Linked DNA regions of Homo sapiens: regions 1 and 3 are each linked to region 2. Evidence: fine-mapped expression QTL. A gene starts in region 2. Each other region holds a variant in brackets. All regions are shown on one strand. Distances are from middle to middle. Region 1 holds the start of CD22 (CD22 molecule). Region 2 holds the start of USF2 (upstream transcription factor 2, c-fos interacting). Region 3 overlaps MAG (myelin associated glycoprotein).

Region 1 (8,161 bases), 56 kb before region 2:
GTTCAAGTGATTCTCCTGCCTCAGCCTCCTGAGTAGCTGGGACTATAGGCATGTGCCACCACACCCGTCTGATTTGTTTGTTTGTTTGTTTGTTTTAGTAGAGATGGGGTTTCACCATGTTGGCCAGGCTGGTTTCAAACTCCTGACCTCAGGTGATCCCCCCAACTTGGCCTCCCAAAGTGCTGAGATGACAGGCGTGAGCCACCGCACCTGGCTTAAGTAAGATTCTTTACTGCAGGACTTTAAAAACCTTTCAGTAAACTCTATCTACACCATTAATCTCTAGACATGGGGATTAGAGTATAGTATAATACATTGTCCATACTTCTTTGGCCATGGGATCTATTTTACATGTTCCATAAAAAACTTAGCAGGGTTGCAGAGCCAGAGTTCTTTGAAATCCCCTTAAGGTTACCTAAGGGGTAACAAGGGCTGTGGCAAGGACTAGACTCCGTTCCCTGCAGCCAACACTTGCCTCCAGGAGCCGGGCCATTGTCCCTCCTCTGCCAGCACCCTCCAGCCACAACCTGCTCTGGGACGGGCTGGAGCATCCCAGCATGAGTGGGAGATGGGCGCCTCCAGAGCAGGACTGTGTGCTGCCTCAAGGAGCTCCAGGAGTCTCTGGAGCACAGGAGTAGGGCCCCAGGCCCGGGAATTGGAAGGCTGAGGGTGGGGTGGAGGTTAGGGACAGCAGTTATTATGCACAGAGGCTCAGGACAGGGCCATGCTGTCCAGACCTCCTCAGTCCAGGCCTGTTGAGGGCCTTGCAGAACCTTGGGGCTGACCTCCCTGGCTCCTTCTTCCCTCCTGGGCATCCAATAACCTACCCTACTCTCAGAAGACTCAGCAGGCCTGGCAAGGAGGATGCTCAAGACAGGGGTCTGTCTACAACCTGTTGTAACACCGGTAAGAGAGAGCCAGGGAGGTCCCCACTGTGTTCCCAGCTCTGGGAGGTATGCCTGGCCCATAACTGCTGTTCCGTAATAACTTGCTTGTTGAATGCAAAATAAAAGCAAAATGATTTTTACCTGTTTCCGCGTGTCTTCCCTCTTCAGGGACCCTGGCAGCATCTGAGAGCAAAAGGAGAAGTACAGTAAAGTCTCTGGTGACAGAGGTTTCCCCTCCATGGCCACACCCCCTGCTTCTCTATGGCTCTGAGGGGGACCAAGCAGCACCGTGATCTGGGGAGTGGGGAAAAGAGACGATTGAGGGGGATGCGGGCTCGGAGTCAGATTGGAAGACTCGAATACGTATGGGCAGTTCTTCCTTTCCGTGTATGGGTTTGCAATATCAGATCAGTTTCAGAATGGGCTCCTCCACAACTCCCCCTCTACCCAGCTCTCAGGAAATGCGAATGACTCAAGCCAAGCAGGAGAACTGCAGCCCGCTGAAAAAGGCACAGGCCTACCTGAAAGTATTTGTAGTTTAGTGACACCATCCAGTTATTACCATTTCCACTCTTTTCATCATAGGCATAAATGGTGGGGAATCTGACCACCTACACTGAAGCCCCCAAGGGTTGAGGGAGGAGCACATAGATATTGAGGAGGAAAAAGATATCTCGGCCGGGTGCGGTGGCTCATGCCTGGAATCCCAACACTTTGGGAGGCTGAGGCGGGTGGATCACTTGAGGTCAGGAATTCGAGACCAGCCTGGCGAACATGGTGAAATTCCGTCTCTACTAAAAATACAAAAAATTAGCTAAGTGTTTTGGCAGGCGCCTGTAGTCCCAGCTACTCAGGGGGCTGAGGCAGGAGAATCACTTGAGCCCAGGAGGCGGAGGCTGCAGTGAGAAGAGATCACACCACTGCAGTCCAGCCTGGGTGACAGAGTGAGACTCTGTCTCAAAAAAAAAAAAAGAAAGAAAGAAAGAAAGAAAGAAAAAGAAAAGATATCTTGTAGGACTGGGCATGGTGGCTCATGCCTGTAATCCTAGCGCTTTGGGTGGCCAAGGCGGGTGGATTGCCTGAGCTCAGGAGTTCAAGACCAGCTTGGGCAACATGGTAAAACCCCATCTCTACTAAAAAAAAAAAAAAAAAAAATCCAAAAATTAGCTGGGTGTGGTGGCGGGCGCCTGTGGTCCCAGCTACTCAGGAGGCTAAGGCAGGAGAATCACTTAAGCCCGAGAGGCTGAGGTTGCAGTGAGCAGATCGCGCTGTGGCACTCCAGCCTGGGTGACAGAGCCAGATCCTGTCTCAAAAAAACAAAAAAGATATCTTGTAGGAAGTGTTATTGAATGGAGAGTCTTTAGGCTGAAACCTCATCACCTTTATAATCCTGTAGCCAGCGAGTGTCTCAGGAGCAGAACAGACAGCATTGGAAGCCATGCACATCCTACAGATGAAGAGGGATGCGCTGAGAGGTCTTCACTCCAGCACCACTGCCCTCTATGGGCAGCTGGCCATAGGGAGGGAAACAGAGAGAGGGAAGAACACCTTCTTCCAAAAGCACCGATAGGGCTGGGTGTGGTGACTTATGCCTGTAATACGCTTTGGGAGAGCAAGGCAAGAGGATTGCTTAAGGCCAGAAGTTTGAGACCAACCTGAACAACACAGCAAAACTCTGTGGGGCTAGTCAACAAAAGCAAAAAATGAAAAGTAGCTGGGCATGGTGGCCCATGCCTGTGGTCCAAACTACTTGGGAGGCTGAGGCAGGAGGATCGCTTGAGCCTGGGAGTTCAAGGCTTCAGTCAGCCATGATAGCACCACTGCACTCCAGCCCAGGCAACAAAGTAAGACCTTGTCTCAGTAAATAATAAATAAATAAAATGAACAAAAAGCAGTGATGTTCTGGAAAGATGGAGTAGATGTATTTATTTATTCTGCCAAGTATAACTGAAAACCTTGAACGTGACAAGACAAGCATAAGAAGACTGAAAGATGGAGAGAAGCAGACTGGTTAGGAACCTCGGGACTTAAGGAATGGTGGTGAATTCCCTGGGATTTCTCTTTGCCTCATATATCTCAGGCTGAATACTGGAGAAGCCAACAACTGAAAATGCCAAGGGGCACAAACAAGAAAAAGTCCCAACAGAACAAGTTCTAGCAAAACTATGCTTTTCTAGCCAAAGAACGAGGAAAGGGGCATCCTAGAAAGACAGAGCTCTTTTAGTCCATACCTGCTCCGCTCCATCCAAGTTCCATCATCACCCTTGTCAGCAAAGGCCGGATGGAAAACCTAGACATTCACCTTCACCAGGCTGTAACAAAGAACCCTAGGCCACTCCCATACTCAGCCAGAGTGATGCTAGAGTTGGAGCTGGGAC[A/C]TTCCTCCCCACTGGGATCACCCTCCCCCGATGTGGTGTTGGTGGAAACCATGTGGGCAGCCTGGACATCCACTGCCACCCCAATGCAGAAATGAGGCATTCCACCCGGCCCCATTGGAGTAGTGTCAAAGGGGGCCTGGTGGAGAGTTGGGACTTTCGCCACCACTCAGTGGTAACAAGCACCCCCCTCTCTCTGCCACACACAGTGTCAGTGAAAGCCACATAGGGAGCAGTAATGAAGCATCCCTCCCACTCCCAGCCAGGGAGTTGTCATGGATTCCTAGTGGGGAACCTGAACTTCTACCCTTACCAAACAATAACATGGAGGCCTCATCTCTCCCAACCCCCCAGGTTCAGGAAAGGCTGGATGGAGAACCTGGACTTTTATCCCTGTCTGGAAGCAATCAGGCAGTGCCCTACTTTATTTCGCTGGAGCAGTATAAAGGGAAGCCCACTAAAACAAAATATTTAAAGAAGATCCAGAATCTTATAACACAGTGCCCAGAATATCCTGACTTCAATGGCAAATCACTTGTCATACTAGGAATCAGGCATTCTCAAACTGAATAACAAAAGATAATTAACAGACACAAACATCAAGACGACACAGATGTTAGAATTATCTGACAAAGATTTTGGAGCAGCCATCATAAAAGTGTTTCACTGAGAAATTATAAATGTGCTTGAAACAAATAAAATAATAAAAAGTATCAGCAAAGAAATAGAAAATATAAAGAAGAACCAAATGGAAACTTTAGAACTAAAAAATACAACTAAAAAATACAAGAGCTGAAATAAAAACCATAATGGATGGGCTCAATAGCAGAATGGAGAGTATAGAAGAAAGAAGCAGTGAAACAAAACGTATAACAATAGAAATTACCCATTCTGAACAATGGAAAGAAAATAGATGAAAGAAAATGGAACAAAGCCTCAAGGACATGAGTAACTATAATAAAAGAAGATCTAACATTTTGTCATTGAAGTCCCAGAAGGGGAGGAAAAGGAGGGTGGGCCTTAAAAAAATATTCCAAGAAGTAATGGCTGCAAATTATCTTCATTTGACAACACACACGCACAACATATGTCTACAGATTCAAGAAGCTGAGCGCATCACAAACAGGATAAACCCAAAGAAATTCATGCCAAGACACATCATAGTCAAACTTCTAAAAACAAGAGGCAGAGAAAATTCTCGAAAGCAACCACATAAAAATGCAAAAAATTAGCCAGTTGGGTGGTGCGTGCCTGTAGTCCCAGCTACTCAGGAGGCCAAGGCAGGAGGATCACTTGAACCTGGGAGGCGGAGGTTGCAGTGAGCTGAGATCCTGCCACTGCACTCCAGCCTGGGCAACAGAGCGAAACTCTGTCTTAATTAAAAAGTAAAATAAAATAAAAACAAAAAACCTCTGGAAGATAACATAGGAGAAAATCTGTGAGACTTAGAGCTTGATGAAGTGTTCTTAGACATGACACCAAAGGCATGATCCCTAAAAAAATCAATCCAACTTCATCAAAATTAATTTTTTTTTGCTCTGTAAAAGACCTAGTTAAGAGAATGAAAAGACAAATTACAGACTAAGAGAAAATATTTGCAAACCACATATCTGACAAAGGACTCCTATCTAGAACAAATATATAAAGAACTCTCAAATTCAACATAGAAACACTACATAAAAAAATCAAATCATCCAATTAGAAGACTGGCAAAAGATATAAAGAGAAATTTCACCCAAGGGGATATATGGATAGAAAATAATTATCTAAAAAGATATTCAACATCACTAGCCTTTAGACAGGTTAAGACCATGATGAGATATCACTACTAACATCTATAAGAACAGCTAAAATAAAAGATAGTATCAAATACTGGAAAGATGTATGGAAACTAAATCATTTATATATTGCTAGTGTGAATATAAAATTGTCCAGCCACTCTGGAAAAAAGTCTCAAAACAGTTCCTCCAAAGATTAAGCATAGAATTACCATACACTCCTGCATCTCCACTCTTACATATATAACCAAGAGAAATAAGAACATGTTCACCCAGAAACTTGAACACAAATGTTTACAGCAGCATTATTCATGAAAGCCAAAAAGCAGAAACAACCCACATGTCCATGAAGAGATGAATGAATAAAGAAAATATGGGAGACCTAAACAATAAAATATTATTTGATAATAAAAAGGAATGAAGTACTGATAGATACTACAACATGGATGAACTTTTTTTCGAGACCGAGTTTCACTTGTTGCCCAGGCTGGAGTGCAGTGGTGCCATCTCGGCTCACTGCAACCTCTGCCTCCCAGGTTCAAGCGATTCTCCTGCCTCAACCTTCTGAGTGACTGGGATTACAGGCATCCGCCACCACGCCCAGCTAATTATTCATATTGTTAGTAGAGACGGGGTTTTACCATGTTGGCCAGACTGGTCCTGAACTCCTGACCTCAGGTGATCCACCCGCCTTGGCCTCCCAAAGTGCTGGGATTACAGGCGTGAGCCACGGCGCCTGGATATGGATGAACTTTGAAAACATTAAGTGAAAGAAGCCAATCACAAAATGTCACATATTGTATGATTCCATTCACGTGAAATATTCAGAAAAGGCAAATCTGTAGAGACAGAAGTAGATGTAGCGGTTGCGTAGGGCTGGGGTGGGGTGGGAAAGGTAAGAGGAAATGAAGAGTGACTGCTAATGGATGTGAGATTATTTTGGGGTGATGAAATGTTCTAAAACTGGTTGTGGTGATGGTTGCATAATTCAGTGAATAGACCCAAAACCATTCAATTGGACATTTTACATGGGTGTGTTTTATGGTATGTGAATTATATCTCAGCAAAGCTGTTATATATGTAGTATATATGTAATATATAACAGCTTTACATACAGCTTTAACACACATATGTGTGCATATATGTGTGTGTATGTATATTGTGTGTGTGTGTGTACATATATATATATATAAAATAAAAATCAGGCTGGGCACGATGGCTCACACCTGTAATCCCAGCACTTTGGGAAGCAAAGTGGATCACCTGAGGTCAGGAGTTCAAGACCAGCCTGGCCAACATGGCAAAACCCCATCTCTACTAAAAATACAAAAATTAGCAGGCATGGTGGTGTGCGCCTATAATCCCAGCTGCTCAGGAAGCTGAGGCAGGAGAGTCACCTGAGCCCAGGAGGCGGAGGTTGCAGTGAGCTGAGATCCCACCACTGCACTCCAGCCTGGGCGACAGAGTGAGACTCTGTCTCTAAATAAATAAATAAATAAATAAATAAATAAATAAATAAATAAAAAACAGTCCAGTTAGAAAATAGGCAAAAGACATGATGACACCTTTCCCTGAAGAAGGTATATAGAAGGCAAATAAGCACATGAAAAGATGTCTCACATCACCAGCCATTAGTGAAATGCAAATTGAAACCCATGACAAGATACCGCTTTAGAACAGCTAAAATTAAATAACCAATAATGACAACACCAAACACTGGTGAGGATGCTGTGAACTTGAAACATTCACACACGACTGGTGGGGATGCAAAGTGGTCCAGCTACTCTGGAAAACAGTTTGCCGGTTTCCTGAAAAACTAAACAAAATATACCTACCAGATGACCCAGCAATTGCACTCCTGGGCATTTTATCCCTAAGAAATGAAAACGTATGTCCACATAAAAACCTGCACACAATTATTCACAGCAGCTTTGTTTGTAATAGCCAAAAACTGGAAACAGGCCAGGCACGGTGGCTCACGCCTGTAATCCCAGCACTTTGGGAGGCCGAGGTGGGCGATCACCTGAGGTCAGGAGTAATCTCAGCATTTTGCGAGGCCAAGGAGGGCAATCACCTGAGGTCAGGAGTTCGAGACCAGCCTGGCCAACATTGTGAAATCCTGTCTCTATTAAAAATACAAAATGAGCTGGTCGTGGCGGTACATGCTGGTAATCCCAGTGTAAATAGTAAAGTAGAAGTTCCTTTTCAAAGAGACTGTCCTCCCCATCTAATTAAGAATAAATAGTAACTTCTCTTAGAAGCAAAATTTATTCAAAGACCTGTGCTAACATTCTTAAATATCTACTAGCCATAATAAAAAAATCAATGTACTTTATGTTCTTAGATCCTACAATTTAGCCTAAAGATTTGCCCTAGCATGCTTATACTAGTCCAAGAAAGCATTAAGTCAAAGCCTGTTCCTCTTCCTTATTTAGAAATGTTTTTACTTTTCTCAGTATTCCACGTTACTTTCTCCTTCCTTTGTTCTCCTCTGCCTTTGCCTCTTTTAAAAAGTTCTAAGTTGCTAGCCAATCCAGACAAATACAGAATGTGAGGTCCCGTTTCAGCCAATAGAAACCAGACACAGCAATAAAGTAGATGCATCAAGTTATAAATGACCCTGTCTCCTTTGTTCAGTGTACTTTTGTAGCAAAACTGCTAGCGAGTATACCCTTTCTGCAGAAAGTAAAACTAGCCTTGCTGAAGAAATTAAATTTACATTAAAGTGCTATTTCTTTACAGCACCAAAAATCAAGCATTTCTAACACAAGCTACTCGGGAGGCTGAGGCAGGAGAATTGCTTGAACCTGGGAGGCAGAGGTTGCGGTAAGCCGAGATCACGCCATTGCACTCCAGCCTGGGCAACAAGAGCAAGATTCCATCTCAAGAAAAAAAAAAGCAAAACCAAAAACTGGAAACAACCAATACGTCCTTCACTAGGTGAGTGGCTTAACAGATTACGGTACATCCATGCCATGGAGTACTATGCAGCAATAAAAAGGAGTGAGATATGAAGAGGATACAGGCAACAACTTGGACGATTCTGAAGAGTGGTACAGAGAGTGAAAAAAGCCAGTCTCCAAGGATCACATGTGTTACAACATTCTTTTTGTTTGTTTGT
Region 2 (8,175 bases):
GAGGGGCCGGACCTTATGAAACACCAGCAAGACTGGGTGTGGCAGCTCAGGCCTGTAGCCGAGGCCGGAGGACTGCCTGAGGCCAGAAGTTCAAGACGAGCCTGGGCAGCATAGCAAGACCTCCACTCTACAGATAAAAAAAAATTACCCCATGTGATGACGCCTGCCTGTGGTCCCAGCCACTCAGAAGCCTGAGGTGTGAGGATCGCTTGAGCCTGGGAGGTCAAGGCTGCAGTGAGCTGTGATTGTGCCACTGTACTCCAGCCTGGGTGACAGAGTGAGACCCCCTTCTCAAAAAAAAAGAAACACTCGCAGCCAAAGCAGTTTCTCAAGCTTGTCCACTATGACAAATCACCTGAAGAGCTGATGGAAAACACAGATTCCCCGGCACCCCCATCTACTCACTTGGAACTGGGACAGCCCTGGAAATTTCACTGTTAACAGTGGGGTAGGAAAGGCAAAGATCACAGGAGAATCAGAGAGGATGGAGGAGAAAGGAAGATTCCAGAAAGGAACAGAGGGAAACAGGCAGCATCAGATGCTTGGAGCCCAGACAGCAAAGGAGGCCAGTGGATGTGGCAATGGGGTCACCACGGGTGACCGGAAGTGGAGCTGTTTTGGTAGAGCCATGAGCCAGATGGCTGAGGGTACTGGGAGGATGAGCAGATTGGGGCAGATGCTCTGCAAGTCAGGAAAGCGGAGACAGGACGGAGCTGGAGAAGTGGGCAGGTGATGAAGACTGCTTCACAGGGTGAGAAAGTTTCAAGGCTGCCTGGAGTCAGATTAACTAAGGGAGAGGCGGGGGTGAGAGTGGGGTGGGAGGGTTCTGAGTCCTCTCTTCGCCTTACTGTGTGGCCACCAAGACTCACTGCATCCCCACCAGGTGCCCGGGGCGGCTGTGCTTCCACCATTTCACAGAGGGAAGACAGGTACGGAGATTAAGAACCACCCTGACGCCCCACCACAGGTAAGTCGTGGGGCTGGGGCTGCTCTGGGGGCCCCTCAAACTCACTGCATCTCAAAACCAAGCTCAGATGCACCCCTTCCCTTCCAAGCATGGAGGGGAGTTCAGCACGAAACCCTTATTCTCCAGCCTTGGAGTCCTCCCCACATTTCCCCCAACCCCTGCCCTGTCTCAGGCCTGACAGTCGTATGGTCTCCTACCTCCCAGCCCCTTCCCACCACTCTTGCCAACAGCCTCCACAACCCAAACCCCTCTGCTGGCTTCTCATCACCCTGGAATAAAACCACAGGAGCCCAGACAGCCACACTGGGGACTTCTTCCAAGGTCCTCCACCATCTGGCCTGGGCAGCCCCCTCCACTGCGCCAACTTCCTCTTTCCTTTCCTGAATTCTGCTCTTCTGCAGACACACCATGGCGGCCCTGGCTCAGGGCCTGGCCTGTGTTCTAGCTCTTCCCTCTGCCCGGGACTCTCCTGAGGTTCTCAACAGGCCCCTTCCCTCAGGTCGCTTCAGGGATCTGCTTCAATGTCACCTCTCGAAGAGCCCTTCAGAGCACACTACCATGCCGCCATCACCCGCCACCTTCTTCCCCAGCTTTCCTCTCCTGCCTGTGACTGCCTGCACTGCCTGATGCGGCTGTGTGACTCCCATCTCTCCCACCAGAACGCGCACAGAGAGCTGAGACCTTGTCTGTCCTATCATCTGCTGCATTGCCATATCTGAGGACGCAAAAGGGGGGCTGGTCGTAGTATGCACGCGCTGAATGAACGCCTGAACTCAGGGAGGAGCTGCTCAGAACACAACTACCTGGGCCACAGACCCCAGTCCCATCACCACCTTTAGGACTCAGCATTCAGCCCCTCACTCGGGCATTCGAGGCCTTCCCGATCTTCCCTCCTGAGGCATTCTAAATGGAACTTCTCCCACAACCAAACCAGCACCCCACAAAGTAACCTGACCCACACTCCCCTCTCCCTAGGGAAGCGTCACCCCAGCCCACCCCCCATCAATGTCCCATGAGACCCATGAGACATAAGCCCTCAGGCCTTTGAGCCTCCCTGACGCTCCAGGCCAGACTCCAGACCTGGCACAGGGCCTGTGCCGCTCAGCCCAGAACCCACGGGCAGTAAATATTTGTTGAATGATGGTTGTTTGGGTGTAAGCACTCTCCTGGCACTTGCACAGTGCTGTGCCCACTGCAGTGGCTACTGACAGGCGGGGCGGGACAGTGCTGAAGGCCAAATGACCTGAGGTGAGACCTGGTGTTTCTGGAAAGGGCAGGATGCTCCGGCCTTAGGTAGCCAGAGGCAGAACTTCATGCAGTTTCTCCCTCAGATGTGCTCCCTGGGGGAACAGACCTACTTCTGGAGGCCAGGCAGGCATGGGAGTGCGGGATGTGAGCATGACAGCTGCCACGTGGAAAGGTCAGCCCACGTGAGCCCGGTCAGCCCCATTTTTCAAGTGGGGCAGGCAATCCGTATGGGAGTGTGAAGTCCACCATCTTAGATGTGGGCCATGAATTCAAGATCACCAGCCGGGTCAACAAATGGCCAGTTCCAATTCACACTCCCTGTCCCTCTACTTCTGACACTGTACTCTCCCCTCGTTGCTCACTTTCTACCTTTACAGCGTCCAGCAAAGCCCTCTGGAGCACTTGTGGCCTGCCCAGGAGTGGCTTCTCTCTCTGTCACTCCACACTCCAGGGCTGGCTGAGCCTGTGAGGGTGGTGGTCAGGGGGACCCGGAGCCACACCTTGTCCTCACCTTCGTTGTGCTGGGCTCTTCTCCTCTCATCTCGGGGTGTTCTGGTTCCATCAATTTTTCTACAAGAGGAGGAAAAAAAAAGGGGGCATGTATTATCGCAGAGCTGTTTGCCCAAGCATCTGCTAAGTATTAGATTTGAAAATTATCTTTGCAAGGTAAATCCATCTGCAAAAACAAAAGACATGATACTTTATGTGCACTAGAGCAGCAGAAACAGGCAAAGAAAAAAAACATTACACCATGTGCCCACTTCATGCTAACTGCCCAGCTTCTACTCCAGAAACCCCTCTTCCTTCCATTTCAACACCAGGCCCTCCAGGTGTCCCCTGCACATACGGAGAGTAAGGGTGTGTCCGGGGGGCGATCGTCCTCTGTGTTCCTGTCTGAAGCACATCCTGGGGCGTCATCATGACGTAGAACTGGCCTGCAGGGAGAGTGGGGGGTTAGTGGCAAGGCAGGGTGAAGTCAGAACTGGCTGGGGGGGCTTCCCTCCCTGCTGGGCCCGTTGCCTCCCCCACCTGCCAATCTGACTTCTACTCCTCACCTCCAGCCTGCAAGCTCTGGTCTGTGGTCTGTACGGACACAGCCGTAGTATCTCCCACACTGGACGCTGGGAAATAGGCAAATCGTGCCTCCCCGCTGACAGCCTCGGCCGCCGGACTGCCACCATTGCTGAAGGGATTTTGGATCACAGCCTGGGGAGTAGGAGGGCAGAGGCTACCCTTAGCTTTCTCTGTTCCTCCATCCCGTCCCCTCATTGCTGTGCTTGGGGTTTACTGCATTCTCTGCAATTAACAGGAGTGGGGACTCCTTCTGCGTGTAGCATTCTGTCCTGTGTTTCAAACAGCCCTGGAACATGGCGGGAGGTCAGCGATCACTTGCTGAGCAAATCCGTTTCGCACTCTAAGAAACTTTCCTCTTAAGACACATCATTCCCATTTTGCGGGAAAAAAAAATTCCAAGAGCACTGTCCCCAGGTTTCACGGTGCACAACAGGGATCTGGCCCCATGCAGCCTGAGGCCTGAAGGCAGCATCCGCTGGGCGACACCTGCCCCACCCCCGGGGCTCCCCAAGAGCAGAGCCAGTGTCCCCTCTCCACTCCCTCCCCCCCCCACCCAGGGGTGGCAGGGCACCTACCAGCGGGAAGGGCGCTGCAGGACCTGGGGGCACAGAGGCAGCGGCGGGGCCCGGGCGCTGGGCTGCCCCGTCCACACCCACCTGGGTCACAGCCTGCTGCCCCCCCGCGAAGGCAGCGGTGGACACGACGCTGACGGCGCCAGCTGTGTCGCCCTGGCCGTCCAGCTGACCATCAGTCACCTGGACTACGCGGTATGTCACCTGCAGGGGGCGGCAGAGCGGCGAGGCCGGCGCTGGGGCCAGGTCCGAGCCTTCCCGGCGCGCCCGCCCGCCCGCCCGTTCGCCCTCGCGGCCCGCCGCTCACCTGTCCTCCATTTGTCTCTGTGCGGAACTGGTACTGGATGTTGTGGTCGCCGAACGCCGCCTGCTGGACGCTGGTGATGGCCACCGCTGTCTGCTCCTCCGCTCCTGGGCCGTCCCCGCCTGGGGCCGAGGAGGGTCGGGGCACGGTCAGGGCCGCGCCGAGCGCCCCCAGCCCTCCCCGGGCGCGGCCGGCCCGGCAAGCACTCACCTTCCTGCAGCTCGACGCCCTCCTCCGCCTCGGGTCCCTTGTCGTGGCTGCCAGGGGCACAGGAGGGAGCAGGGTCAGCGCGGCCCGCGCCCGCGCCCCCGCCCCCGCGCCCAGCTGCAGGGCCCCAGTCCCACCCGGCCGCGCCTGAGGCCGGGGGCGCCGCCGAGGCCGGGGGCCGGGGGCGGGAGGCGCCAGGTCCCCCCCGCGCCGGCGGCCTCCATTTTGAGCCGGGCCCGCGGCCGCTCGGGATCATGGCGGCCCCGGCCTGCAGGCCGCGGGGCCGGGGCCGGGGCCGGGGCGCGGGGGCACGGCCGGGCCGGGGATCTTACCTGGCGGCGGCAGCAGCGGTGGCCGAGGCAGCGGGATCCAGACCCGGGTCCAGCATGTCCATGGGGGGGGCGGGGGCGGGGGGGGCGCGGGGCCCGGGGGGGAGGGGAGGGGAGGGGAGGGAGGGAGGGGAGGGGGCGGGCGGCCGGGGGGGCCCCGAGCCCGGCGCTCACGCCGCGCGGCAGGAGGGGACGGAGGAGATACGGGAGCCGCTCGCGCTGATCACGGGGACAAACAGTGGGGTCATGTGAGGAGGAGATGCCGCCGCCGCCGCCGCAGCCGCCGCCGCTCCTGCAGCCGCTGCAGCCGCCGCCGCCTCCGCCTCCGCCCGCCCGCCGGCTCCGGGCGGCCCGAGGCTCCGGGACGCCGCGCGGCCGCCCCCAGCCCACCCAGCTGCCCGCCCGCTGCACGCGGCCCTCAGGCCTCCTTCCCTGAGCAGCCGCCGCCGCCGCGACTTTTTTTTTTGAACACGGCCCGCCCTGGCTGGCCGCCGCCAGTGCCCTGGATCGCCGGCTCGCGCGGCCGCCGCCCGGCTTGGCCCAGTCCGGCGGCGGATCGCTGCTGCAGCCGCCGCCGCTTTCTATTTTTCCCCCTTTTTTTTTTCCTCCTTTACTTGAGCTGCGCGCGCGCGGCGGCGGCGGCGGCGGCGGCGCGAGCCCCGGGGCGGACGCGCGCTGGGGGGAGGCGGCCCGGGGCGCGCGCGCTGGTCTGTCTCCGGGGGCGGGCGGGCGCGCGCGAGCCCGGGGCTCCGCGGGGCGCGAGGTCGCCGCGCGCCGCCCTGGTGAAACGCGGGTCTGGATGGAACGTCGGGGTACCCGGTGCAGGGGCTGGGGTCGTCGGGGGCCAGGTGGGCTGCCCGAGTTTGGAGACAGTAAAGTAGGTCGGTGGGGGGCTGGGGGGGATGGGCTGGAAGGGGAGAGGAGCGCGCGCGCGTCCCGGACGGCCAGCCTGCGGTGCGCGAAGGCGGAGGGCCGGGGCGCATGCGCACGCCTGGGCGGGGCCGGGGCGCGCACGCAGGCGGGCGGCGGCTGCGCGGGGCACGTTCTCCGGCCGGCGGCGCGGGCGCGGGCCGGGCCAGGCTGGGTCTCTTCCTCCCGGCCCCGGACTCCGGTGCCCCCGGGACGCGGCGCTTTACAGACGCATACGGGAGCAGCCCCGGTCCCCCGCCCCGCGCGGCCGAACAAATGGTTCTCTCCAGAGCTTGTGATTATACGTTTTATTAGACTCGGGAGGGGTATGGCAGGGCTTCATCAGTGTTCCTTCAAATTAAAAAAAAAAATACAAAAGCTACGTAGAAAACGTCAGATCAGACGACTAAACTTTCCCGACTCAGGGCCAAGTTCTGCAAGGGAGAAAGAAAGAAGGGTATGAGCCGCGGGGACCGGCTGGGGGCCCAGGGACGGTCTGGACGCCAGGGAGGGCGGCCCTCACCTTCTTGAGCCTGCGCTCTCGGGACGCCTGCGAGTCGGTCTCCGAGTACGGGGGCGGCGCGGGCGGGTAGTAGGCCTCTTCCTCCTCCTCCTTGTGGGGTCTCCTCCTCTCCTCCGACCCCTTCTTCCTCACAGCCTCCTCCAGTAGCCGCCCATCATAGGGGAGGTCCCCGGACCTGGAGCCGTTGTCCCGAGGGTCCCGGGTACGGTGGTGGTGGGACCTGGGGTCGGCAGGAGGGCGCTCCCGAGACCTGAAGTCGTCGTAGTGGGGGTCCCGGGAGCGTGGGAAGTCCCTCGAGTCGTCTTGGTCATAGAGGTCGTCCCGGCTGCGGCTCCGCGGGGGCATGTAGGCCCGGCTTCTCCCACCATTACTCGTGGGAGACCTGCTCCCTGACTCGGCGGTGCTCGGCGGGGTGAGGTCGTCCAGGGCGTCCACGGAGCGGGCCCGGGGCCGCCTGGCCCGCCAGCCCCCGCCTGCCTGCTCCCTGGCGGGCTCCTGGTCCCATCCCCTGGGACTCCGGGGGGAGTGGCCACCCCACTCCTCATCCCGGATCGGGGTGAGGGCAGGGCCCCGGGAAGGCCGAGATCGCCAGTCGTCCTCGTGGAGGGAGGTGACTTCACTCATGGCTGCAGGGAAGGGGGGTGTCACTGACTGCTGGAGGAGCCCGGGGTCCAGGGTTTGCACCAAGAGTCCCTGCGGCAGGTATCAGGGAGACATGTTTCACCCCCCCACCTTAAAAGCCCTCAGACCCCAAGGCTCCTGCTTACCCCGCTCCACACGGCCACTGGGGGGGCCAGGTCGAGAAGGGTCGAAGTTGGCCAGCTCCTTCTCCATGTAGTACAGGACCCGCATGGAGTCGTCCTGCTGGCTGGCCTGAATCCTGTAGCCACTGCGGACTTCTAGGGACAGGGGGGTGGTGGTCGGTTTGGGAGGATGGATCCTGGCCCACCCCTCTCCCTTACAGGCACATCCAACTTCGGGACGATGGATTCTCACCAGAGGCCACACTGCTGTCCGTGTCCCGAAGCAGGGGTACATAGGAGCCTTGGCCACCAGCTGGGGGAGAGTGGCTGTCAGTGGCCGCGCACCAGGAGCAGAGCCCCTCCTCGGCTCCCAAGACACTCTTCCTTCCAGCCCCTGCCCCTCAGTGTCCAGATGCCCAGCACACTCCCACCAGCTGTTCCTGCTTCCCCCGGCCTCACCTGAGCTACTCCTGTCAACGTCTCCAGGGTATCCTCCAGGGTACCCGTTGTAGGCAGGGCCCATGGGAATCATAGCTGGTGGGGGTGGGGTCTTGGCGGGAGACAGGTGGGCATAGGTGCTGGGGGCATAAATGCTGGGAACACCTGAGGTGGCTGCTTTGCCGGCGGCATACACTGTGAGGACACAATCAACAGGAGAAGGGGGATGAGGCAGGAGCCAGGCTGCCCCATACCCATTGGGTTCCGGAGGGACCTGGGCCTGGACCTCCTTCCCAAGCCGTCCTCTCCGCTGTAGAGCTTCCTTGGACATCTGAGTCCCTGTTGGTCCTCATTCCATTTCTGCAGCATCCCTGAGGCTGGGGGACACCAGCTTCACAGAGACCCCACCCCACTTCCTGTGTGATTTTTCAGAGGGTGCACGCAGGCACCCACAGCCCCAGGGTGGCAGAACAATGTTTCATTTAACAGCATGGTAATTCGCCAACATTTGTCAATCAAAAGGTTTTACCTAAACTTCCAACTCCCCAGCTAACTTACTGGAAGAAGTGGCCACCCATGGTCTGTGTGTTTACAGGGCAACAAAGCTGCCCTTTATATAAAGCCCAGATGCTGGGTCCACCACTGTCCCCACAAGCCGAAATCAAGTATCCTCTTTGGCAGCCAAGCCCCTGTTCTAGAAAAAATGAGTCATCTGGGAGACGTGGGTCCTGCCCACCTGGTCACCTTCCAGATTGAGATGCAGTGGCAGGAGCCTCGGGAATTAACTTGCCTGCCCCGGCCAAGCAGCAAAGTGTCTCCTCTAGTGTTTCTAACTCATGGACTGCACCCATTTCTGCCTGC
Region 3 (8,175 bases), 45 kb before region 2:
TTGGGCATGGTGGTGCGTGCCTGTAATCCCAGCTACTTGGGAGGCTGAGGCAGGAGAATCACCTGAACTCGGGAGGCGGAGGTTGTAATGAGCCGAGATCATGCCACTGCACTCTAGCCTTGGTGACAGAGCGAGACTCCATCTCAAAAAAAAAAAAAAAAAAAAAACCTAGGATTAAATTCCATTGCTGGGCGGGATGGCTCACGCCTGTATTCCCAGCACTTTGGGAGGCTGAGGCGGGTGGATCACCTGAGGTCAGAAGTTTAAGAGCAACCTGGTCAACATGGTGAAACCCCGTCTCTACTAAAAATATAAAAATTAGACAGGCGTGGTGGTACATGCTTGTAATCCCAGCTACTCAGGAGGCTGAGGCAGGAAAATTGCTTGAACCCGGGAGGCAGAGGCTGCAGTGAGCTGAGATTGTGCCACTGCACTCCAGCATGGGCAACAGAGTGAGACTCTGCCTCAAAACAAACAAACAAAGAAACAAACAAACAAGCCCCAGTCCTGCCTGTGGCCTACAAGGCCCTGTGTAATCGAGCTTCCTTGGGCAACAGAGCGATACTCTGCCTCAAAACAAACAAACAAAGAAACAAACAAACAAGCCCCAGTCCTGCCTGTGGCCTACAAGGCCCTGTGTAATCGAGCTTCCTTGGGCAACCACTCTGGCTCCATCACTCCACTCAAGCATGCTTCTTTCCTTCTTGTTCCATGAAGGTAACAAGTACATTCTCGCCAGGGGCCTTTGCACTCGATTTTGGCCTTCCCTGGACCCACATTCCCCAGGAACCCACAGAGCTCCCTCCCTTACTTCCTTCTGGTCTCAAGTCAAATGACTTCTCTTTCTGAAATGGCAGCCTGACCCAGCACAGCCTGACCTTGCACCCCTCTGCAGTTCCTTCACTGTCAGATGTGCGGTCATGTGTTTGCTTGTCTTTCTGATCGTTGTCTGTCTCTTCTGCAGAATGTCAGCTCTGGGAGGTCACAGAGTGATTCTTTTTGGGCACTGCTGTGACCCTGGGGCCCAGCATAGGCCTGGCACACAGAGGTGCTCAGTGAGCATGTGTTGAATTCTGGTGGGGTCCAGGAGCTGGGTGGGGAAAGTCTGAGAGAGTGAACTTGAGTTCAGGTCCTACTGGTTTGTTTGTTCGTTTTTTGAGACAGGGTCTCACTCTGTTGCTGAGGCTGGAGTGCAATGGTTCAATCTCGGCTCACTGCAAACTCCATTTCCTGGGCTCAAACTATCCCTCCCACCTCAGCCTCCCGAGTAGGTAGGACTACAGGCGCATGCCACCATACCTGCCTAATTTTTGTATTTTTTGTAGAGACAGGGTCTCGCTATGTTGCTGAGGCTGGTCTCAAACTCCTGGGCTGAAGCCATCCACCAGCCTCAGCCTCCCAAAGTGCTGGGATTACAGGCATGAGCCACCGCACCTGGCTCGGTCCTACACGTTCGCCATGGCTGAGTGCCGGTCCCTCCTAAGGATGGTCTTTGTGTCAAATTCCCTCATTGTTTCCCAAACTTTAGAGGTTTGCCTACAACCTTCAGGAGCCACCTGCAACATGTTTATTTAATACATTTTTAAAATCAGTTCAGTTGATTGATTTCTTTCTTATTTATTTATTTTGACTTAGCCTCATCCGAAGCTGGTGCGGCATTCTGGTTTCCTGTTGTTCCGGTGCATACTAAATGAAGCATACACAGTAGCGTCACAGTGGCTCCCAGGGCCCTCAAGCTGCACTTTGGGCAGCGTGAGTTACTCCCCGATCCCTGGTTATTGACAATGTTTTGCTCCTCTGGGTGAAGTCCTCCCAGGCCAGACCTGCTGGAGCCAGAGTCTGTCGTCAGGGGACAGGTGTGTCAGGGCAGGGCTGGTGAGCATGTATGCAGGGGATCTGGAAGAGGCTTCCCTCCCGGCTGCTGAGAGGCCCCTGTGTATCCCCAGCCCCATCCGATGCCTCTCTGGCCTTGCTTCAGCTCCTGGAATTTTGCTAAACATGTTCCCACTTGGGGCCTTCACACATGTGTGAGTTTCCTTCCATAGGGAAGCCTCCCCTGCCCCCTGTGACCTTAAGTCACACAGCGGTCCCCAACCTTTTTGGCACCAGGGATTGGTTTCATGGAAGACAATTTTTCCATGGGCCTGAGAGTGGGGAGGGAGCTGGGGATGATTCAAGCACATTACATTTATTGTGCACTTTATTTCTATTATTATTACATTGTGATATATAATGAAGTAAGTATACAACTCACCATCATGTAGAATCAGTGGGAGCCCTGAGCTTGTTTCCCTGCAACTAGACGTTCCCATCCGGGGGTGATGGGAGACAGTGACAGTTCATCAGGCACCATCTGTGAGTGTGCAACCTAGATCCTTTGCGTGCACAGTTCACGATAAGAATCGTGCTGCTATGAGAATCTAAAGCCGCTGCTGATCTGACAGGAGGCAGGACTCAGGTGGTCATGCTTGCTCGCTGGCTGCTCGCCTCCTGCTGTGCAGCCCAGTCCCTAACAGGCCACAGACCAGTATCTGGGTGTGCAGTATAGCACTGGGGACCCCTGCTGTAAAAACTCTGAGCTTCTCCTTGGAAGCCGGTGTCACAGTTGCAGTTTGATATTGTGCATGAGATTCTTTCATGTCCTTGTCCCTGCAAGACTGTGAGCTCCGTGAAGAAAGGGCATGCACCCTCCCAGCTTGGACAGGCCCCACAGAGGGTTTCCCTTCCCACAGCCCGGCCCCCCACACGTCTCCTTTCCTCCTGCATGTGGACTTCCCATCCCAGCCAAGCAGCCCCATGTCACCTCCCCTCCCGACCTGGTTTGTTTATTCCTGCCTCTAGGCCTTTATTTTGGTCTCTGTGCTGTGTCCTCTGCCTTCTTCAAAATGCAGGGAGAGACCAGGCACAGGGGCTCATGCCTGTAATCCCAGCACTTTGGGAGGGTGGGTTGGGCGCATCACCTGAGGTCAGGAGTTCGAGACCAGCCTGGCCAACAATGGTGAAACCCCGTCTCTACTAAAAATACAAAAATTAGCTGGGTGTGGTGGCACACGCCTGTAGTCCCAGCTACTTGGGAGGCTGAGGCAGAAGAAGTGCTTGAACCTGGGAAGCAGAGGTTGCAGTGAGCCAAGATCGTGCCACTGCATTCCAGACTGGATGACAGAGTGAGACTCCATCTCAAAAAATAAACAAAAAAAACAAAAAACAAAAAAAAATCAGGGAGAGCTGCCGTCTAGGAAACCCTGCCCTCACTGCCCGCAGCCCACAGCTTAACCTTACTGCTCCTCCAGCACCCGGGCTCTGTGAGCAGCTGTTGGTTCTCACCAAGATGGCCGTGTAGCACAGCGTCAGAGTGTGGCCTCCGAAGCCAGTGGTCGGGGCTCAAATCTGGGCTCCACTGCTAACAATTGGGGACCACAGAACTGATGTAACTTCTCCATGCTTCAGCTGCTTGTTCTCAAACGTGCACGTGCATCAGAATCCACCAAGGACTTCTCAAAACACAGATTCCTGGGCCCCACCTCAGGGTTTTTGATTCCTGAAGTCTAGGGTGGGGGCTGAAAATTTGCCTTTTTAGCAAGTTCCTGGGTGCTGCTGATGCTGCTGCCTAGGGACCACACTTTGAGAACCATTGTCATAGTTATTAGGGAAGGTAAATGAGGTTAATGGAGATTAATTAATGCAAACTGGGTAGAATCATAGAAAGCGTTCAACAACTGTTAGTTATCAATCCCATTTATACCAGACACTCTGGCCCTTTTTAACTTCCTGACAGGTATTATAGAAAAAGTGCATTTGATACAAAAATTAGCCGGGCGTGGTGGCGAGTGCCTGTGATCTCAGCTACTTGGGAGGCTGAGGCAGGAGAATCACTTGAACCCAGGAGGCGGAGGTTGCAGTGAGCTGAGATTGCACCACTGCACTCCAGCCTGGGTGACAGAGACAGACTCCATCAAAAAAAAGAGAGAGAGAGAGAGAGAG[G/AGAGG]GAGGAAGGGAAAAGAAAAGAAAGAGTGCATTTGAATCAGAAGCATCAACCCCATGGCCTGGACACACCGTTTCCGAGCTCTGGGACCCTGGGAAAATCACCTAACTTCTCTAAGTCTCAGTGTTCTCATCGTCACAGAGCTGTCCTAGGAGACCCTTCTCAGGACAGCCTGAGCCTCTAGAAAGGGCTCAGTATACAGCTGGTGCTTAATTAATGTTTCTGGAACTGAATGTAGTGATGTATAAAGGCTGACGCTGCAAATTGCAGCATGAATGTGAGAGATGGTGGTGAAACCAACACGGGCTGGTGAGACCTAGATCTGTGGCTCGCACTCCAAGCTGCAGGGACCAGGAGGTAATCTCAGTGCAGGAAGCCGGCCAGGTGTGGGACAATAGGGAGTGGTGGGGACTGCGGCCAGTGCACAGGACCCTCCCTTTCAGCAAGTCATGTCCACGTACAAGTGCAAGCCTGGTGCTGTCAGCTGATCTGACTGCGGCAAAAACCAGCATGAGGATTTTTATGTGAAATCATCCATAAGTCAAACCAGACCCAGCTCGCAGCTACCAGCTCAGAGTGGGAGCAACTTAGTGGCCACTGGCCCTGGGTTCAAGGCTAAAATCCCTGGGCCCTTGCCTGCATACCAGGCTCAGCCGAGGGCAAGGAGAAATTCTGTCATCGTTCTGTAGACGGTGGGATGGCAGGCTGCCCAAAGGCGGGTCAGAAAGCATCAGGATCTAGACTGGCATTTGGCTTTGGGGCATTTATTTCATGTCCCTTTTGTACAGGCCCCAGGGCCAGGTGTGGGGGCAGGAGACCAGGCAGGAAGTAGCAATAAATAACACGGACAGACAGAGCTCCCCTCCAGACAGATGAGGGTAAAGGAGGTTAGAGAGGAGCCGTAATGAGGGCGTGGGGGTGCTGGCAGGGAGGGGCAGCTGGGAAGGAGGGGGAGGTCAGGCCCCCAGGACCTCACTGTCACCTGCCTCACTCCCCTCCTGCCCCAGCCCCCGATACTTTTGGGAGGAAGGGAGCCCACAGCCAGTGGGGGCCAGCGAGGGTCCTGAGGGGGGTCAGCCACGCAGGCTGCCCCCAGCTCCTTCACTTGACCCGGATTTCAGCATACTCAGCTAGCTCCTCCGTCAGCGTGTAGCTGTCCTTGGTGGGCCGTTTCCCCAGGTCCGAGTGAGAATAGCTCAGGTCCAGCTCTGGGGGCTCACCCCGAAGGCCCAGCAGCCTCCTCTCAGATCCCAGGCGCCTCTCGCTCTAAGAGGGGAAACCGCCCATTAGCAGGGTCCTGCTCCCTGCCTTTTCCCAATGCAGAGGACAGAGCGTTTGCACCCTCAGAGCTCCTGAGTTCAGTCCCAAATAAATCCCTGCGAGAACCTCCTTTCTCAAGGACCGCAGGCCCAGCGAGCCCTGCGGTCACCAGGTCCCACTCTGGAGCTTCTGCCAGTGTTAATCATTGCTGAACTTGAAATTTGCCTACAAATTCAGTTTCTCCAGGAAGCTGCTTCTTCTTCTTCTTTTTCTTTGAGACCCAGGCTGGATTGCAATGGCTCGATCTTTGCTCACTGCAGCCTCCACTTCCTGGGTTCCAGCAATTCTCCTGCCTCAGCCTCCCAAGTAGCTGGGATTACAGGCACCTGCCAACACGCCTGGCTAATTTTTTGTATTTTTAGTAGAGACAGGGTTTCACCATGTTGGCCAGGCTGGTCTCAAACTCCTGACCTCAAGTGATCCATCCGCCTCAGATTCCCAAAGTTGTGGGATTACAGGTGTGAGCCACTGCCCCCGTCCAGGAAGCTTTCAACATAGGAGTTTTGAGGGCACACAATGTAACCCCTAATACCTTTTTGGGTGAAAACCACCTAGTCAGGACCCCATCTTTCCAAATTCCTGGAAATACCTGGTTTGGTACGTGCCCCCCCATGGGTCCTGCATGGGTCCGCCCTCAATCTGGGAGGTCCTGCAGGTGACATGTGGGTTCCCCCCACGCTTCCCACCCCTCCCTCCACCCCCTAGCCACAGGAATTTGGACACACAGGACGGTGGCCACAGACAGAAGGGAGCTGCAACAGGACAGACTAGACAAGGCCAGCACTGCCGGGCAGGCCCGGACATCACCAGAGACCACCTTGACGCCTGACAGGGACACACGGACATGCACGCCAACCCCAGGGCCCAAGGAGGGCCCAGAGGAGGGCACACTGAGGCCCCCGGAACCTACCTCCTGGGGCACTCAGTGAGATTCCAGGGTAGAAACCTCTTTGGACTATTGGAGAAGGAAATGCAGTCACAGACACAGGCAGGGAGGGGAGGGGGCCCTTAGGCCCCACGTCCCATCGCCCCCTACACAGCTTCGGCCTGGGCACCTCCTCCCCAGCCTCCAGGTCCAACCCAGCCCTGGAATGTCCTTCCTCTCCTCCTGTGAGAGGCCGCTCCCACTCCCCTGCCCCTTGGCCTCACAGGCCTTTCCCAGGCCTTCAGTGTCCCTGGCATCCAGGTTCCCAGGCCAGCCTGGAGCCTGGTCCTTACCTCGTACTTCTCTGGTGCCCCAGAGATGCGGAAGTCGCTGCTGAACAGGACGGGAGGGTTGTCCCCTGCCGAGAAGCTGGGGCTCTCTGTCACGTTCTTTCTGCAGGGCAGGACTCGTCAGACCTCTCTCTGCCCTCCCTTTCTGCACCCCCACGTGTTTTAGGAGTTTGGCTCAGGGGACCTCAGAGTTCTCCCACCCATCTCTAAGATGTGGCAAGCAGCCCTTTCAGAACCACCAGCCTCTCCTACCCACACAGCCCATCCTTCCCACCTCTGTGGCCCCTGCCCGGCTGGGGACGAGCCACCTGGCCCCTGAGCTCTGCCGTTTTTCAGGACCCCCACCTGGATTCTCCAGGTTCCCCTCATAGGCTCTGGGTCTTTCTGCCCCTCTTGCCACCAGGATGTGGAGCAGAGGGGTTAATTTATTTCTCAGGACAGCTGATGTGTGTGTGCCACAAGAAAGAAACACGGCTGCAGCTGAGTTGGGCCAGGTGGGTATGGTTTGGGGCTGGAGAGGCTTTCTGTCTGTCTGTCTGTCTGTTTGTTTGTTTTTAGAGACAGGGTCTCTCTTTGTCACCTAGGCTGGAGTACAGTGGTGAAATCATAGCTCACTACAGCCTCAACCTCCCAGGCTCAAGCGATCTTCCCTCCTCAGCCTCCCGAGTAGCTGGGACAACAGGCACGTGCCACTAGTAGCTAATTTTTTTGTTTTTTTGTAGATGGGGTCTCCCTATGTTGCCCAGGCTGGCCTCTAATTCCTGAGCTCAAGAATCGTTCCACCTCAGCCTCCCAAGTAGCTGGGACTACAGTGTGTGCCACCATGCCTGGCTAATTAAAAAAAAATTTTTTTTAGAGATGTGGTCTTGCTATGTTGCCCAGGCTGGTGTCAGATTCCTGGCCTCAAGCAATCCTTCCTCCTTGGCCTCCTAAAGTGCGGGATAACAGGCGTGAGTCAACGCGCCCGGCCAAGGCCTATTTTTTTTTTGCCCCAGATGTGTGTAATCTTTGGGGCTTCTGGCGTCAAGTGGACCTGCTGCTGTGGCTGCAGTGGGGTACCTGGGCTTTCCCCACCACACTGGAGTGTGTAGGGGAGAGTTCCTAGAGATAGGGAGGCTGTCAAAATAGAATGTGGGCAAACAGGTCTCAAATGATGTGTGTAAAGGGCTCAGCCCAGGCCCTGGTGTGCCCCTGACCAGCAGGGGCTGGAATTAACAGGAACCCTCTCTCCTCTGTCCAGCTGAACATTCCCAGAACAGAATCTGCCTTCTCTACACTTATGGTGCTGCCTTCCCCCACCCACTCTGGGCCTCCATCTCCCACCAGGTCCCCTTTTTGGAGACTCCCATCCCCAGATCAGCCCCAGCTGGCACTCACTTCCTGCGTGTCTGGGTAATGTAGCAGACGATGGCAATCAGGATGGCAAAGGCGACCACGGCGCCCACAGGCCCGATCTTGGCCCACATCAGTCGATCTGAGGACAGAAAAGACCCAGGCGCCCTTAGGGCTATGGGTGGTGGTGACGACACCTGAGAACTTTGGAGACATGCTGGGATGACAGTCAATGTAGTCACACAGCCGGGGCATCCTTGCACTGACTGATTGGCACGGAGCCTCCTCGTGCCAGGGCAATCCCTTTCATGCTAGAGGGCCCTGGGGAGG

What was found.
Region 1: its variant is fine-mapped to the expression of USF2 in whole blood (INTERVAL, PIP above 0.99).
Region 3: its variant is fine-mapped to the expression of USF2 in whole blood (INTERVAL, PIP above 0.99).

What each region holds. Positions count from the first base shown.
Region 1 is chr19:35,322,098-35,330,258 of GRCh38, reverse strand. CD22 (CD22 molecule) reads right to left here and starts at 1,072. Exons shown (of 14, transcript NM_001771.4): 1 at 1,029-1,072. RefSeq lists enhancers at 326-375, 446-495 and a silencer at 6,751-6,810. The variant A/C (reference allele first, on the strand shown) is at 3,266.
Region 2 is chr19:35,265,693-35,273,867 of GRCh38, reverse strand. USF2 (upstream transcription factor 2, c-fos interacting) reads right to left here and starts at 4,906. Exons shown (of 10, transcript NM_003367.4): 1 at 4,705-4,906; 2 at 4,376-4,422; 3 at 4,169-4,287; 4 at 3,865-4,065; 5 at 3,271-3,421; 6 at 3,063-3,150; 7 at 2,727-2,785. The coding sequence starts at 4,766. LSR (lipolysis stimulated lipoprotein receptor) reads right to left here. Exons shown (of 10, transcript NM_205834.4): 6 at 7,336-7,509; 7 at 7,130-7,189; 8 at 6,901-7,032; 9 at 6,134-6,759; 10 at 5,904-6,044. The coding sequence ends at 6,009. RefSeq lists an enhancer at 2,811-3,550 and silencers at 3,838-4,157, 4,298-4,487, 5,646-5,795, 5,896-5,965, 6,046-6,125.
Region 3 is chr19:35,310,359-35,318,533 of GRCh38, reverse strand. It overlaps MAG (myelin associated glycoprotein), which reads right to left. Exons shown (of 11, transcript NM_002361.4): 9 at 7,891-7,987; 10 at 6,517-6,616; 11 at 4,727-5,244. The coding sequence ends at 5,080. Among named protein-coding and RNA genes, the nearest start is that of CD22, 15 kb to the left of the region's middle. RefSeq lists enhancers at 6,087-6,586, 6,587-7,088. The variant G/AGAGG (reference allele first, on the strand shown) is at 3,982.